2 separate regions of the Homo sapiens genome follow, and region 2 is reported to be linked to region 1. Evidence: microRNA targets listed by miRTarBase, many of them from high-throughput screens and not tested one by one. Region 1 holds a microRNA gene; the other region holds the end of a gene's coding sequence.

Region 1 (7,262 bases):
CTGACCCTGGCTGAGGCAGAGCACCCAGCTCCGTGGACCGGGACGGACGGGCTCAGGTGCCCCCCATTCCTTCCGAAGCCGGTTCACACCCACCCGGGCCTGGCACAGGGGAGGCGCTGGCTGCAGGGTCGGGGCGGGAGCAGCCTCAACCCGGCTCCTGGGCCGCGGCCGCAGCAGTGGAACCTGTCGGGGCAGGTAAGGGCGGGCAGCGGGGAGGCTGAGGCGCAGGGGGAGGCGGCTCCCTGCAGGGGGGCCCTCGCCAGCCCCCGCCGTGGCCGACGTGGGGCAGGGGCGCAGGTGACAGATGGGCTGTCGCCAGCCTGGCCAGCGTCCAGGGGAGCTCCGGTCACTGCAGACACAGGCTGGAGCGGGTCCTTCCCCCCCCCAGGGAAAGGTGGGCCCCTGCGCAGATGCGGCTGGGTTTCGGGTGTGGAGCCATCTTGGACCCACGGGCTGCGTCTTCCGGGCACGGGCACAGTGTGTGGGCTCCAGGCATGGGGTGCCCTCAGGGCAGGGCCTGGGCAGAGGGCAGGCTCCGAGAGGGGTCACGTTCTTGCCGCCTACCTGACAGCAGGCCTTCTAGAAAGTTCTCTCCAGAAGCAGCCACCGCCGTCCTGAGGCACTTTGTGCGGAGACGGGAAGCTGTCGCCTCAGAGGTGGGTGCGTAGAAGGGTTTGGCCGGGTGCGAGGATGACCGCGTCTCCCTTGGGCTCTGGAGTCTGCGGTGGGAAGGGCTTGGTTTCAGCACCCTCTGGTCAGAGGCCGGCCGAGCCCATGGGCGGTGAGGTTGGTGCCTGGGGTCGTGGCTGGTCTGGTACAGGTGGGGCTCAGCCCGGAGAAGCTGGAGCCGGTTCCCAGGCCCCGCGCTATGACTGGGGTGGGGGCAACGTCTCTCGTGAGGTTTTTTACTTAAATGTGAAACGGCTCAGTACGGTGGCCGCAGCCGGGAACAAGGTCCGACCCACCGAGGCCCAGCCTTGAACTTGCCGCGGGGGCACCTGAACACGGTTTTACAGCCCGGATCACTGGCTTTCTTGAAGTTTGGGAACTGATTGATCATGGTGGCGGGAGGTAAGGTTCATTGTTCTTGATGAACAAAATTCTTAGGGCGTGAAGAGCCGATGCTTTAATTAACCCCCCGGGAGCGTCTCAGGCCTCCCCCCGGGAGCGTCTCAGGCCCCGTTTACGCTGAGTGTCTGGGGAAAGACGTGGTTTGGTTTTGTTTTTCTAGTAACCCAGATGAAATGTTTAAAAGCATGGTTGGCAGCACATTGAATTTGGCAAAATTAAGGTTTGCATTTGTGAAAATGCGGATGCAGTTTGCGGTTCTTTTCAGACATTTTGGTAATTTGCAAATACTTATTTGCGAAACGAGTTTGTCAGAACATTTTTTAGTATCTAGAGGAAGATGAGATGGGCCGAGGAGGTCGCGCACCCCTGGATCCCTGGAGGAGCTGGTGTGTTCTCTGTGGGGCGGGTGGACGTGGCCCGGACACACGGGCCGTGCTCACAGCCGGCCTGCGAGGGCTGCAAATCCACGCCCGCCGTGTGGGTGAAATGGCGGCTTTGCCTCCCAGACGCGTAGCTCCGGCGACGCAGAGGGAAGAACCTGAGTGCCCGCCAGGCCGAGCTCCGCACCCCACCCCCCGGCAGCCTCTGACTCCCGGCTCGGCTCCCGCGGTCGGGGAGGGTTGGATTTCACACTTTGTTCTCGAGGCCGCACCATTGATTAAGCCCGTCGGGCAGGTTAACCAACAAGTTAGGTTTTCACGCCGGGATCACATTCCTCGCCGGGCGCTCCCACCCCACCCCAGCCTGTGCAGGTGGGACCCGGCCAGGCAGGCGGGCAGGGCGGCCAGGTGCGCCGAGGGGCGCCTCCACGGGGAGTGTGCTCCGCAGAGAACCCCTTGCTGGGGCGGCTCTGGGCCTCCTGACTCACTCCTGGATTTTCCCAAGCTGAGTCTGGCCCCGCGGTGATGATTAACCCAACACCTCAACCGGCACCGCCACGCTAGCTCCACTTCCCGGCGACGGTTGACAAGAAAGCGCCGCGTGGGGCTCTCGGAAAACAGGGAAGGTCCGTTTTCGCTTTTCATTTCTTGACCTGTGGCCACGGTAAGACTCGGCCGCCTGCCCACCCGACTCCTTGCCCCTCACCCCTGTGCCAGGCACAAGGCCCTGCGAAATCCTTGGTCCCCCAGCTGAGCCTGCCGGCCCAGGCCACCATCTCCCCACCCAGCCCTGGAGCCAGGGTCGGCCTCTCCTGCTAGCTGCTCGTTGGCTTTACAGCTTCTGCACTCAGGAGGCGCCTGGGAATCCTGCCCTGGAACTTAGGAAGGAGGCTTCTCCCACCTGCCTGCCACACGGGTCTGTCCCTGGGTCCCAGCCTCTGCCGTGTGCCCCTCAGCCTCCCGGGTGAGAACGCAATGACTGATGAGCCTGGGGTGGCCAGGCCAGCTCTGGCCCTGTGGGGTTCCTGAGAAGGCTGGCCCTGGGTGGCCAAGGGCCTGGGGACACTGGCCCCGGGCCCTGAACCTGGCAGTGGGAGGCCGGCCCGTCCGCCGGGTGGGCTGGGAACTGTGTTTGGCCCCAGCTGCAAGGGACGAGTGCCGGGCACCTGCTGCCCTCCCCACGTGACCTGGCAGCCAGGAATGGAGCTGAAATTCAACTCTGCTCTGAACGGGAAGTCTTAGTTTCCTTTAGCTCAGAAAACAGGTGAAATTGTGTTCCTGAAGCACTGATTTGATGGGATTTGATGGCATTGGTGGCGAAGGCCTGTGAGGTGATGGAAAGGGAAAGCCGGGTGCCCTGGAGCCTGACAGGCTGGGGCCAGGGCAGGGGACCTGGTGTGGGGTCTCCGGAGAGGGTCCAGGCGTGAGGGAAGCTGGGTCAGGACCTCGGAGACGTGGCCTTTGGAGGAGGAGACTGGAACCGGGTGGACCCGGCAGCAGGCGGGGGCGGGCGGACACGACCTTTGTTGTGGTCGGCGGGCAGACAGGGGAATCGGCACAGGGCCTGCGCCCCACCTACAGCCTCTGTGGGTGGAAGGTGCCAGAAAACTTGAAGAGTGGCTCTGGCCAGCTCTCTGGGCCCAGTTGGCACCAGGTGGTTGCAGAGAAAGGGTGGGAAGGAGGACAGGAAGGACGGCGTGTCCAGCGGGCGGGGAGCCTTGGTCTGGCCTGAGGGCTGAACCTCCCTCGGGTCCTGAGTGTGCCTGGAGTAGAAGCCTAGGGTCTCTGGGCTCCAGGCAGGGCCCTGAGCAAGGAGGGGCCACAGGGCTGCCCACTTCCTCCTGCCCCCCTGCAGAGGCGGCTCAGCCCTCGCGGCGTCTGAGGCTTGACTGCCTGTGTCTGTGTTTGTGGCCGGTCTGCCTCTGTGCCTGGGTCAGACCCCAGACCAGCAGACACACAAACCGCAGGGACGGCTGGGCAGGGTCAGGAGCCTGCCCCGCCCGCACCCCCACCCACACCCCCACCCCCACCCCCGCCTGCACCCCCTGCCCTCAGACGCTGTGCAGTGAGCGGGGCAGCATGGGAGAGGGGTCTCCAGGTGGCGGGGACCGTTCTGTCTCGAGAGCCTCGCAGACACCGGGCCTTTGAGAAGAGAAGGGGCTGGGCAGGGAAGCAGCTCCTGGAACACCATCCTGGAGACAGAGGCCCTTGTCCCCTGCCTCAGACAAGGCAGCACGTGGGGCCCGGGGGGCTGGGGCTGCTGTCCAGGCCTTCCTATGGGACCACCCAGAGGGAAGGTCCCCCGCAGAGGGGTGGGGGCAGAGGGCCGAGCGGGGCGGGCAGAGGGCCCGTGTCAGCCCCACTCCGACCTAGTCCTCGGCCGTCTGGCCAGGACACTTCGGCCCCCCAGGTGCCCACCCCAGGACCCAAAGCTGGTGGCTGCTGGACTCGGCAGGGCTGGCGGGTGGGGCTCACCCGGGCCCCTGCCCTCCGGCGATGCTGTCCTCAGTGCCCCAGGAGGACGAGGCCCCCCAGCTACTGAGCTTCCCAGCGAGTCCCATGCAACCCTCAGCCGGGCGGCCCCCGGACCCAGCTCGGGCAGCCGTGGCCATCTTACTGGGCAGCATTGGATGGAGTCAGGTCTCTAATACTGCCTGGTAATGATGACGGCGGAGCCCTGCACGCAGCGACCGGCCGACCCCGTCCCGGCCCCCAGGGCCTCCCGCCGAGCCCCACACTCCCCTCCCACACAGCCCGCTCACCGGACCCCACCCCGTCCGGGCCAGATGGCTCTGGGGAGAGTGACGGGGGGACGTGACCTTCGGAAGGGGGCTGGGGCGCCCCCCACCAGCATCTCAGAGACCCCGGAATGCAAGGCCTCCTGCAGCTGCACCCAGGGCGCCCCACAGTGATCTGGGGATTAGGACGCTCAGGTGTCCGGGCCCTGCCCACAGCGCCTGGGCGGGAGCTGCTGTCACACCCAGCAGGTGCGGGCCGAGCAGGACCCAACAGAGGGCTCAGGAGGGCAAGGCCCAACCGGGAGCCACGTGGAACCCAGAGGAAGCCGCCCCACCCAGCTTGGCCACAGCCATCTTCCCTCCTGCCGGACAGGGTGGGCCGGCCACCGAGCAGACCAGTGCCCCCGCCTTGGTCCCGGGTCAGCAGCCCCAGGGTCCCCTTGCCCTGGAGGAAGCAGGGAGGGTGGGCCTGTGTGCAGTCTCAGGGCCCCCAAGCCCCTCTCCGCCAGCCCTGTCCGGTCCCGGCACCACCCCTGGCTGCTCACCGCTCCGGTTCTTCCCTGGGCTTCCACAGCAGCCCCTGCCTGCCTGGCGGGACCCCACGTCCCTCCCGGGCCCCTGTGAGCATCTTACCGGACAGTGCTGGATTTCCCAGCTTGACTCTAACACTGTCTGGTAACGATGTTCAAAGGTGACCCGCCGCTCGCCGGGGACACCACCGAGGCACATCCGGAGCTCCTACTCCAGGGATGGGCTGGGGCGGAGGGCCGAGCGGGGCCAGCAGACGGGTGAGGGCGGAGGGCCGAGCGGGGCCAGCAGACGGGTGAGGGCGGAGGGCCGAGCGGGGCCAGCAGACGGGTGAGGGCGGAGGGCTGAGCGGGCGGCAGAGGGCCTGTGTCAGCTCCGAAGTCCAGCCCCCAGGGGAGGGGCCGGCCTCTGCCGGGGGTGCCCCCGGGGTCACTCACGCCCAGGCTGGGTCTGACACCTTGAGGACCCCTTGGTGCCTCCACAGGTGGCCTGGAGGGCATCCTGCTCCCCCTCCCGGAGCCGCTGTGCCTCCCCCACCCAACCTCCCAGGCTGGGTTTTAGGGTGACCTGGCTCCAGGAAAGGCCATAGGGCTGGGATGCCAGGGCTGGAGAGGGAAGAGCAACAGTGGCCTCTCTCACGTGGTCCGGGCTCCGTGGAGGGTCTGCTGGGGGCGCAGGAAGGACAAGGTGGGTTCAGATTCCCGAGCCCCACCATGCAGGGGAGCGGGGACGCTCTGCGCTTGCCCTCTGAGGGACAAGGGGTCTCATTCCTTCCCCCAGTCAACAAGAACAGGAACTTTGTCCAAAACCCACCAGGCCAGGATGACCCATTGTTTCATCTTTTCCATCTGCAACCAGGGCGCCTGGGACCGCACCCCCACACAAGGCCCCAGCCTGGGGAGGGGGCAGCCACCGGGGAGAGGCTGCCCTTCACTGTTACTCATTAACCCGACCGAGCTTCAGGAAGCCAGCGAGGGGCTGCAGGGAACCTTTGCCAAGAGCAGGGCCTGGGTGACCAGGTGGCTCCCGGGTACCCCCACACAGCCAGGCTGGGCTGGGACCAGGTGCTGGGATGGGGGCTGTCAGGGAAGTGCCTCGGGGGCTCGTTCTGCAGACCCAGGAGGGATCAGGGCAGCTGCAGGAGGTGGCAGGAGCCGCCCCCGGGGCCTTCCCTTCACAGGCCCCGCAGACACCAGCCCAGGACCCGGAGGCCACCCACACCACCGCCGGCCGATGGGCGTCTTACCAGACATGGTTAGACCTGGCCCTCTGTCTAATACTGTCTGGTAAAACCGTCCATCCGCTGCCTGATCACCGTTAGAGGAGAGAGCTGCCTGCCCTGCAGCTCATCAGTGCAAAGCCGCCCGGTCTGGGGCTCTCATGCCCCCCTCACTATGGCCTGTGCCCATCCGCAGCCCATCAGTGCAAAGCCGCCGGGGTCTGGGGCTCTTGTGCCCCACCCTCGCCATGGCCTGTGCCCACCCGGCCTCCTGGGGCCCTCGAGCTGTAGTCCCCGGGCAGATGCTGTGGACCCCGTGCTATCAGCCTGGCCCCTGGGGTCACAGTCACAGATACCCGGAGCCCCACCCCACAGCCCCAGCCCCCTCGCCACCTGGGGAGGCTGAGACAGAAGCAGCTGGGCCCCCCAAAGTGCCTGAGCCCAGGGCACGGAGGAGCACAAATGCCCAGCAGGGACAATGTCACAGCGTCTCAGCGGCCAGGCAGCAGGACGCAGAGACCTCTGGGAGGTTCCCGGGGCCAGCCCTGGCCCTCCTCCTCCAGGGGCCAGCCGTGGGATGCAGACCACACTCTCCCTCCAGGGCCCATCTCTGGGGCTGAGGCGGGCGGGGCCGGTGCCCAGCTGCAAGACCATGGGATAGGGAAGGCAGGTGCTTGGGGCCACGCAGCCCTGCACTGGGGGCCCCTCCACCCCAGGCGGCTCACGAGGTGTCATCTGGAGCTGTCCCCAAGCCGGGATCTGCAGGTTGACCTCCCCCACCCGGGGCTATCTCCAGACCCTCTTTCCTCCCTGGGGAGATGGGGCAGTCCCCCGCAGGGCCAGCTGAAACCACCCCCATGCTGCTGCCGCCTGAGCGACGTGTGTGGGGAAGAACTTGGAGTGCCACCCCCAGAATGTGGCGTCCACCTCACCAGACCGCACGGGTGAGCCCTGGACTGCAAGGTGCATATAACACAAGGTTTGGACACACCTGGAGAGCTCGGGCCAGGCAGGGCCACACCTGTGAGCCTGAGCTCATCCAACACCGCCCGGAGCTCGGGGACCTTCCCCATCCCAGCACCTCCTCACCGCTGTGCCCGTCTGGCCAGTCCCTCCAAGCACCCCTCGGATGAAGTTGCGCCCCACACTGCAGTGGGGCTCACTCTCCACAGCGCCTGCTGCGTTGCACGGGGTGTGACAGGAAGGACCCTGCTGGGGCTGGCGGGGCCGTACCCAGAGCCTCCCTGTGCGGTTTCTCCTCCTCCTCCTCCTCTCCATAAGCACCGGGAACAAAACAGAAAAAAGTCTTTGTATAGTAATAAAGTC
Region 2 (7,000 bases), not on the chromosome of region 1:
CTATCATGCTTTTTACTTTTAAGAATGTTAAATTCTGGGGCTGGGTGTGGTGGCTAATGCCTGTAATCCCAGAACTTTGGAAGGCTGAGGAGGGAGGATCACTTAAGCCTAGGTGTTTGAGACCAGCCTGGGCAACACGGTGAGACCCTATCTCTACTAAAAATAAAAAAATTAACCAGGTGTGCTGGTGCATGCCTGTGGTCCCAGCTACTTAGGAGCCTGAGGCAGGATGATCACTTGGGCCTGGGAGATTGAAGCTGCAGTGAGCCATGATCACACCACCTCATTACAGCCTGGGCCACAGAGGGAGACCGTGTCTCAAAAAACAACAAAACAAAAAACGGTAAATTCTGAATGGTAATTTTCCTAGTTCACATATATGTTACCATGTAGTTCTCTGCAGGTTCCCAAGATGGTTTCCTTTAGAAACAAAATAATACCTTGCACATTGCTGGTTCATTATTTACTTTGCCCTTTGTTCAGGTGACCTCTGCTCCGTTTCTCTGGCACTGGGATTAACCAGTGGCTCCACAGTTCAACAGGGAATTCTTTTTATTTTTTAATGTAGCCTAATGCTTCTGGTTTTAAATATTGAGAGAGTTAAAGTGATACTGAACAGTTTGCCTTTTTGCTTTTGTTGGTACTGGTTTGCTATGATTCATCAGACTTTTAATTACTTTAACAGATAAACAAGAATTTCAGTTATGTTAAGTTCTGTGTTTTCTAAACCAAGACGAAAGGGGAAGGCTTATGGTACGATCAAGAGTACAAAAGGAACTATTAGGCAATGTCTGCTTTACTTTCTATTCAAGTTTGAACTATGTAGGAATTCAGATGAAACAATTTGAATATTAGAACACTTGGGAATAAAAAATGTTTCAGAATATAAGACATTTTAATGTACCTTTGTGTGTGTGTGTGTGTGTCAGCCATTAAAATAAGCATTTGGCTCATTGTCCCAGGGTCTTAACAAGATTTAGGAAGAAACTGATGGAAATAGTAACCATCCTAGAATCTGCCCTTGAGGCTCTGGTGCCCAGCCCTGTCTGGTTTCTTTCATTTCCTTGAATATAGTGTGTTTCCTCCTTTCACTTGGCTGTGGCACGAGCTATTCTAGTTGACTGAAATATTCTTTTTTCATTCTTTGGAATTCAGCTCAGATGTTACTTCCTCAAGAAAGCCTCAGAGCTTCTCCTCTTGGATAGGTCAGATTACATTCGCTGGGCACCCTGAGCTTCTTCCTCATCTATAGAAAACATTTATCATCATTGTATGCTCCACGCAGGCAGGGATATGTCTAGTTATTCAGGGCTCTAAGCCAGGCACTAAGAGCAGAGCACACAGTAGACACTCAATAAATATCTGTTGAATGAAGTCAACCTATATTAAGTGCCAAGTGCATTGCTTCATTTACTCCTCAGCATAACCTTTTAGGTAGATACCCCCATTTACAGATGAAAAAACAGATAACTTGCTCAAGGTCACAGACTCAACCAATGACACAACCAGGACTTGACCATGTCACTTTGATGCCAAAGCCAGTGTTTCAATTTGTCTTTTACTTTCTTTGTTGCAAGCAGTTATCCCACTGAAAATCCAGTGTTCTAAGCATTGTACTATATGATCTCCCATAGGAAGACAGACAGGGTCTGATCCAAATCCGGTGAAATCCAGCAATGGGTTTATAATGTATATTTGTTATGTGCCTTCCTAGCATCCATTGCAAATTCAACCCAATGACCACAACCAAGGAGCATTTAGCAAGGGGATTTTATTACTTGCAACAAGTAAGGAGAATGCCAGGGCTGTATCTCCCAGAGCAGTATCTCCCAGAGCTGGGGGCTTGGTCAGGTTTTGTAAGTATAGGGTAATGAGGCATGATCTGATTGGATCTTGCAATGAGGTGATGCCGGGAGGCATGATCTGACTGGATCCTGCCATGGGGTGATACCACAGCTTGATCTGATCGGTCATGGATCCTCCCATGTGTCTGCTTCTTAATTCAGTCCCCATCCTTGGACTGAGCACTTAGCTTAGGTTCCCCCTGTGGTTGCAGGCTTGGTTCATCTGGGTGTGCTCAGGGCACATGACCTGAGGGTCCATTGGCAACTGAAAAACAACTCACAACTTTGTTACATAAAGGTTAAATCAGATTGGTCTGGTATGGCCACAAAAAGTAGGCTTGCTCTTTCTAACTGGGCTTGTGCCCTGGAAGCATGAAGGTCAGAGCCATTTCTACCAACTTGCTACCTAATAGAGCAGAGGGGAGGACAGACATGACCCTAGAGATTGTCTGGCTCCTGATAACATTATCTGAGCCCTGTTCAGGCTGTGCCTGAGGCTTTCTGCCTGTATGATTTTCACTAATTTGAGTTGATAGTCCTTTTTCTGCTTAAGTCTGTTTGGATTGGGATTCTGTCACTTGGAATCAAAGGATTCCTAACCAATATAGGACCTAAAAGACATTGGACATGTTTTGCCTTTTTTTCTTTCTCCCTTTTGCACAGGCTGAAGTCATTTCCTCAGGCTCTTAAAATGATTATAAATATGTGTTCTCTGGATTCAAGGAGGAAAGCAGTAAAAGAAGGTGTTATGGCAGCAATGATTATCAAAGGAGATTTTGTGGTTTGGGGAGTCAGGGCTTCTAAGACTTGCTCAGTAACTTGTGGAATGACTGTAAAAAACTTCATTTATTTATTTCTCTACACCTCAGTTTTCTCTGAAAAGTGACAATAATATTTGCCACACCACTTAGACAAGAGGGAATTGACAAGACTGTGCCTAGGACTTTGTACTTTGGTATTATCTTTCAGTGTAATGACATTTCATCATTTCAACCTGTGGCTTTTCCTATTTCTCAATCACTAGACTGACCAATAGTGAGATGGTTGGATTAAGGAGGTTCCAATTCTGGGGAGATGACAGAGGAAGGAGATTCATGTTCCAGAGCTTAGGAAGCAGTAGGTGTGCATTCGACCTCACTGCATCAATAACTTTTCACGTTCAAGAGATAGTTAAAATAGTAAAAGCTTCCTTTCTTTCTGCTCTGTGGATTTCACAAATGGGATCGTTAGACTTGAACTTTTTTGCTTTTTTAAAGTAGCCAAACATGATCACATGATGGACTTGAACTTTTCAAAACCCATTCTGATACTTCTAGGATTGCTTTGTGTAAAATCTATTGGCTGTGTTTATAGTTACCTGGCTGTAGAAAGAAAAATTTACATGTTTAAATAGCTAAAATTTCCACAATGAAGGAATAAGCCTCCCAGAGACATTAAGAAAAAGGAAACCAAGCCAGCAAAGATATAAACCATATTTCTGTTCCTAACACAAATGTGAATTTATTGGTTGATTTGATATTTAAAATAGTACTTTTACAAAATCATCTCAGAAAATATACTACATTTATTAAAATTCCTACAAACCATTGCAGAAAATATTAAACCCTCTAACCAACCTAACACTCGCTTTCAGAGGCACTTGTGATGATTTTCACAGCTTCCATAGTTGCAAAGAACAAAGAAATCATCTTCCAACAGGGGTGGAATTAGATAAGAATAATCCAAAAAATATTTATTTCTTTACAGACTCACAGATTGCTTGATGTTTAGGGGCTCTTACCTAGGATACCTAATTATTCAAGGTTTTCCTAATTTAGTAGACTTTTTCATTGCCTACAATCTACAATATTCAGCAAAGTATTAAGGAAAATGAACCCAAGAACCTTAACCACCTCAAATAGTTTTATGGATATACTAAACTGTCAAGTACAATCTTTATCTTAAGACTTGAGAACTGGAATGCAGGAAAACAAACTTTGGTGGAATACTGGAATAAAAGACATAAAGCTGGGCAGAACTAGGTGTGGCAACCTTGTATGTTAATTCTGAAAGCCAGACCAGTGACGCTAAGAATAACAAATAGATTCAGATTTGTTTTTCAGAAACTTGAGCTATTTCGGCCAGGTGCACTGTCTCACACCTGTAATCCCAACAATTTAGGAGGTCAAGGTGGGAGAATCACTTGAGCCCAGGAGTTCAAGACCGGCCTAGGCAACACAGTGAGACCCTGTCTCCCTGTCTCTACTTCTTTTTTTTTTTTTTTTTTTTTTTGAGACGGAGTCTTGCTCTTGTCACCCAGGCTAGAGTACAATGGCATGATCTCGGTTCACTGCAACCTTCGCCTTCTGGGTTCAAGAGATTCTCCTGCCTCAGCCTTCCAAGTACCTGGGATTACAGGCACCCACCACCACGCCTGGCTAATTTTTTTTTTTTTTTGTATCTTTAGTAGGGTTTTGCCATGTTGGCCAGGCTGGTCTTTAACTCCTACCTCGTGATCCACCCGCCTCGGCCTCCCAAAGTGCTAGGATTACAGGCGTGAGCCACCACGCCCAGCCCCCTGTCTCTTTTTTTAAAACACAATTTAAAAGCAGAAAGAAAAAATCTGTGCTGTTTAGACTCAGATTCTTAATTAGCTAGTATTTCTTAATTCAATCAATAAATTATTAAGACCTTTTCACTGCTCCCTTTTTAAAGTCTTCTTTGGAGTGATTTAAGTGCTTCTTATTACCAAGCTCTCAAAGAGAAGATAAAATTAAAATCTGATGGGTAACCATTTAAATAAGACAACTGGGGTAACCCATTTCTCCAGGACCCCTCTCTGCAACAGAGAGCTATTCTCTTTCTTTGGCCTAGTAAACCTCTGCTCTTAACCTTAAAAAAAAAAAAAAAAAAGCAATTGGAAAAAATTTCAAGTCAATGAATAAAATAAGATTTGGGGATAATGGTAGATGCTAATTATGAAAGTCGACTGTTTCCTTTGAAGGGGGAGTTCAAAGCTGTTTTTTTGATGTGAATTCTTTGGGAGACAATAGAAAATGGCTAAATAGGATATAACAGAAACTTTTAAGGATGGAATTCAACTTTACCTAAAAAAGGTTTCAGGCCAGGCATGGTGGCTGACGTCTGTAATCACAGCACTTTGGGAGGCCGAGGCAGGCAGATCACCTGAGGTCAGGAATTTGAGACCAGACTGACCAACGTGGGGAAACACCATCTCTACTAAAAGTACAAAATTAGCCGGCGTGGTGACGCATGCCTGTAATACCAGCTACTCAGGAGGCTGAGGCAGGTGAATCACTTGAACCCGGGAGGTGGAGGTTGTGGTAAGCTGAGATCACAGCATTGCACTCCAGCCTGGGCAACAAGAGCGAAAACTCCGTCTCAAAACAAAACAAAAAAACCTTAAGCTGGGTGCGGTTGCTCACGCCTGTCATCCCAGCACTTTGGGAGGCTGAGGTGGGTGGATTGCCTGAGATCAGGAGTTCAAGACCAGCCTGGCCAACGTAGTGAAACCCTGTCTCAACTAAAAATACAAATTAGCTGGGCATGGTGGTGGGCACCTGTAATCCCAGCTACTAGGGAGGCTGAGGCAGAAGAATCGCTTAAACCCGCGAGGTGGAGGTTGCAGTGAGCGGAGATCACGTCATTGCACTCCAGCCTGGGCAACAAGAGCAAAACTCTTTCTTCCCGCCAAAAAAAAAAAAAAAACCAACAACAAACCAAAAAAACCGCCCCCCAAAAAAAAGGTTTCTCTTCTCCCACTTAGCATTTTAAATGTAAAACTGAAGCTTTAAATTCTTTGAGCCATTCAGCTCTTAACTGCCAGCTCACACTATTTCACAGCATATCCATAGATATGAGGGCGCACCAACTCCCAGGACAGTGGGGCCTGGATGTGCTGCAGCTTCAGCTTAGAGAAGCTGGCCCGCTCCAGGGCCTTCCAGCTCTCTCTGGTCAGGTTGCACCCATCAAACAGAAGGTGCCAGGCAGGATCCAGGACTTGTTGCCAGAAGTAATTCCAAGTCGAACACTCAGCTGCCACATGCTCCATGAAATAGAAAGCCCCTCCCTGAGAAAGAAAGAAAAAAAAAAACATTTCAAGGATTTTTTCATTTCTGCTTTTTTAATTTATTTTTTGAAAATTGTTCTCTGGCACTGCCTTGCAAACCTGTGAGAGAACCGTAGAGTTCTGAGCAGGAGGGTCACTCCACACTAAGCACACCCTTGAGACTGAATAACCATGTTTTAAATTTTTGTGCCATTTTCACAAATATGTACGTGATATGATTAATGAAAATTCTGATTCATCTAAAATCATTACTGAATTCAAGGTAACATTTTGTCATTAGGTATTTTATTCAGTCAGTGGATGCTAAATGTAAATTACTCTTTGTAGGAATTAGCAACTGCTGCTTTCATTGAGGAGTTTTATAAATGTTGATCAAGTACAGGCACAATAGATGTTATTACATGTTATGTGTGGGGACATCTTCAGAAGTTTTCTACATATCTACCTCTGAGGGGAGTAAGGAGCAAGGGACCAGACAGTCACCTCACAAAATTGTGGTAACTGCACCACTCTTCTTGGCCTCCTCTAGTTATCCTAGTCTTGGCTCCTCAGGCAGAGTTTAGAGAGAGAATTCAGTTTAGTGATGGAGTTTCCCCAAATTATATGGGTCAGTGTAAGACCTATGTTACGAATAGAAAAATTGGAATTTCCTGATTTATTTATTCATTTATTATTTCTTGAGACAGGGCCTGGCTCTGTCACCCAGGATGGAATGCAGTGGCACAGTCTCAGCTCACTGCAACCTCTGCCTCCTGGGCTCAAGCAATCCTACTGCCTCAGCCCCCCAAGTAGCTGGGACAACAGGTGCACACCACTACACCCAGCTAATTTTTTTTTTTATAGAGACAGAGTTTCGCCGCATTGCCCAGGCTGGTCTCGAACTCCTGAGCTCAAGTGATCCTCCTGTCTAGGCCTCCCAAAGTGCTGGGATTACAGGCGTGAGCTACCGTGCCCGGCCCTGATTTTAAAAAAAATCTTCATAGGATAGGGCAGCATAAAGGAGGAGAGGCAGGTTTGGGGAGGTCAGTGTTGCCCTCTGGTTTACATATGTTAAGAGGTGCCTCTGAGCAATCCAGGAGACTGTTGA

The links. Region 1 holds the annotated microRNA hsa-miR-200b-5p (CAUCUUACUGGGCAGCAUUGGA, at 4,061-4,082, shown strand). A microRNA usually pairs through its seed, bases 2 to 8, with sites in the 3' UTR of a target mRNA and lowers its output. Matches are read on the target gene's strand: a 7mer-m8 pairs with bases 2 to 8, a 7mer-A1 pairs with bases 2 to 7 and ends in A, and an 8mer does both.
Region 2: the mRNA of TMT1A is a reported target of hsa-miR-200b-5p. Seed matches in the 3' UTR shown: 7mer-A1 at 3,781-3,787.

The regions. Positions count from the first base shown.
Region 1 is chr1:1,163,064-1,170,325 of GRCh38, forward strand. It overlaps MIR200B (microRNA 200b), which reads left to right and starts at 4,041; the gene lies at 4,041-4,135. MIR200BHG (MIR200B, MIR200A and MIR429 host gene) reads left to right here. Exons shown (of 2, transcript XR_007065348.1): 1 at 1-195; 2 at 572-7,262. MIR200A (microRNA 200a) reads left to right here and starts at 4,800; the gene lies at 4,800-4,889. It overlaps MIR429 (microRNA 429), which reads left to right and starts at 5,942; the gene lies at 5,942-6,024.
Region 2 is chr12:50,928,827-50,935,826 of GRCh38, reverse strand. TMT1A (thiol methyltransferase 1A) reads right to left here. Exons shown (of 2, transcript NM_014033.4): 2 at 3,319-5,913. The coding sequence ends at 5,677. It also overlaps a transcript of HIGD1C not described here. Among named protein-coding and RNA genes, the nearest start is that of TMT1A, 7.3 kb to the right of the region's middle. RefSeq lists an enhancer at 1,707-2,001.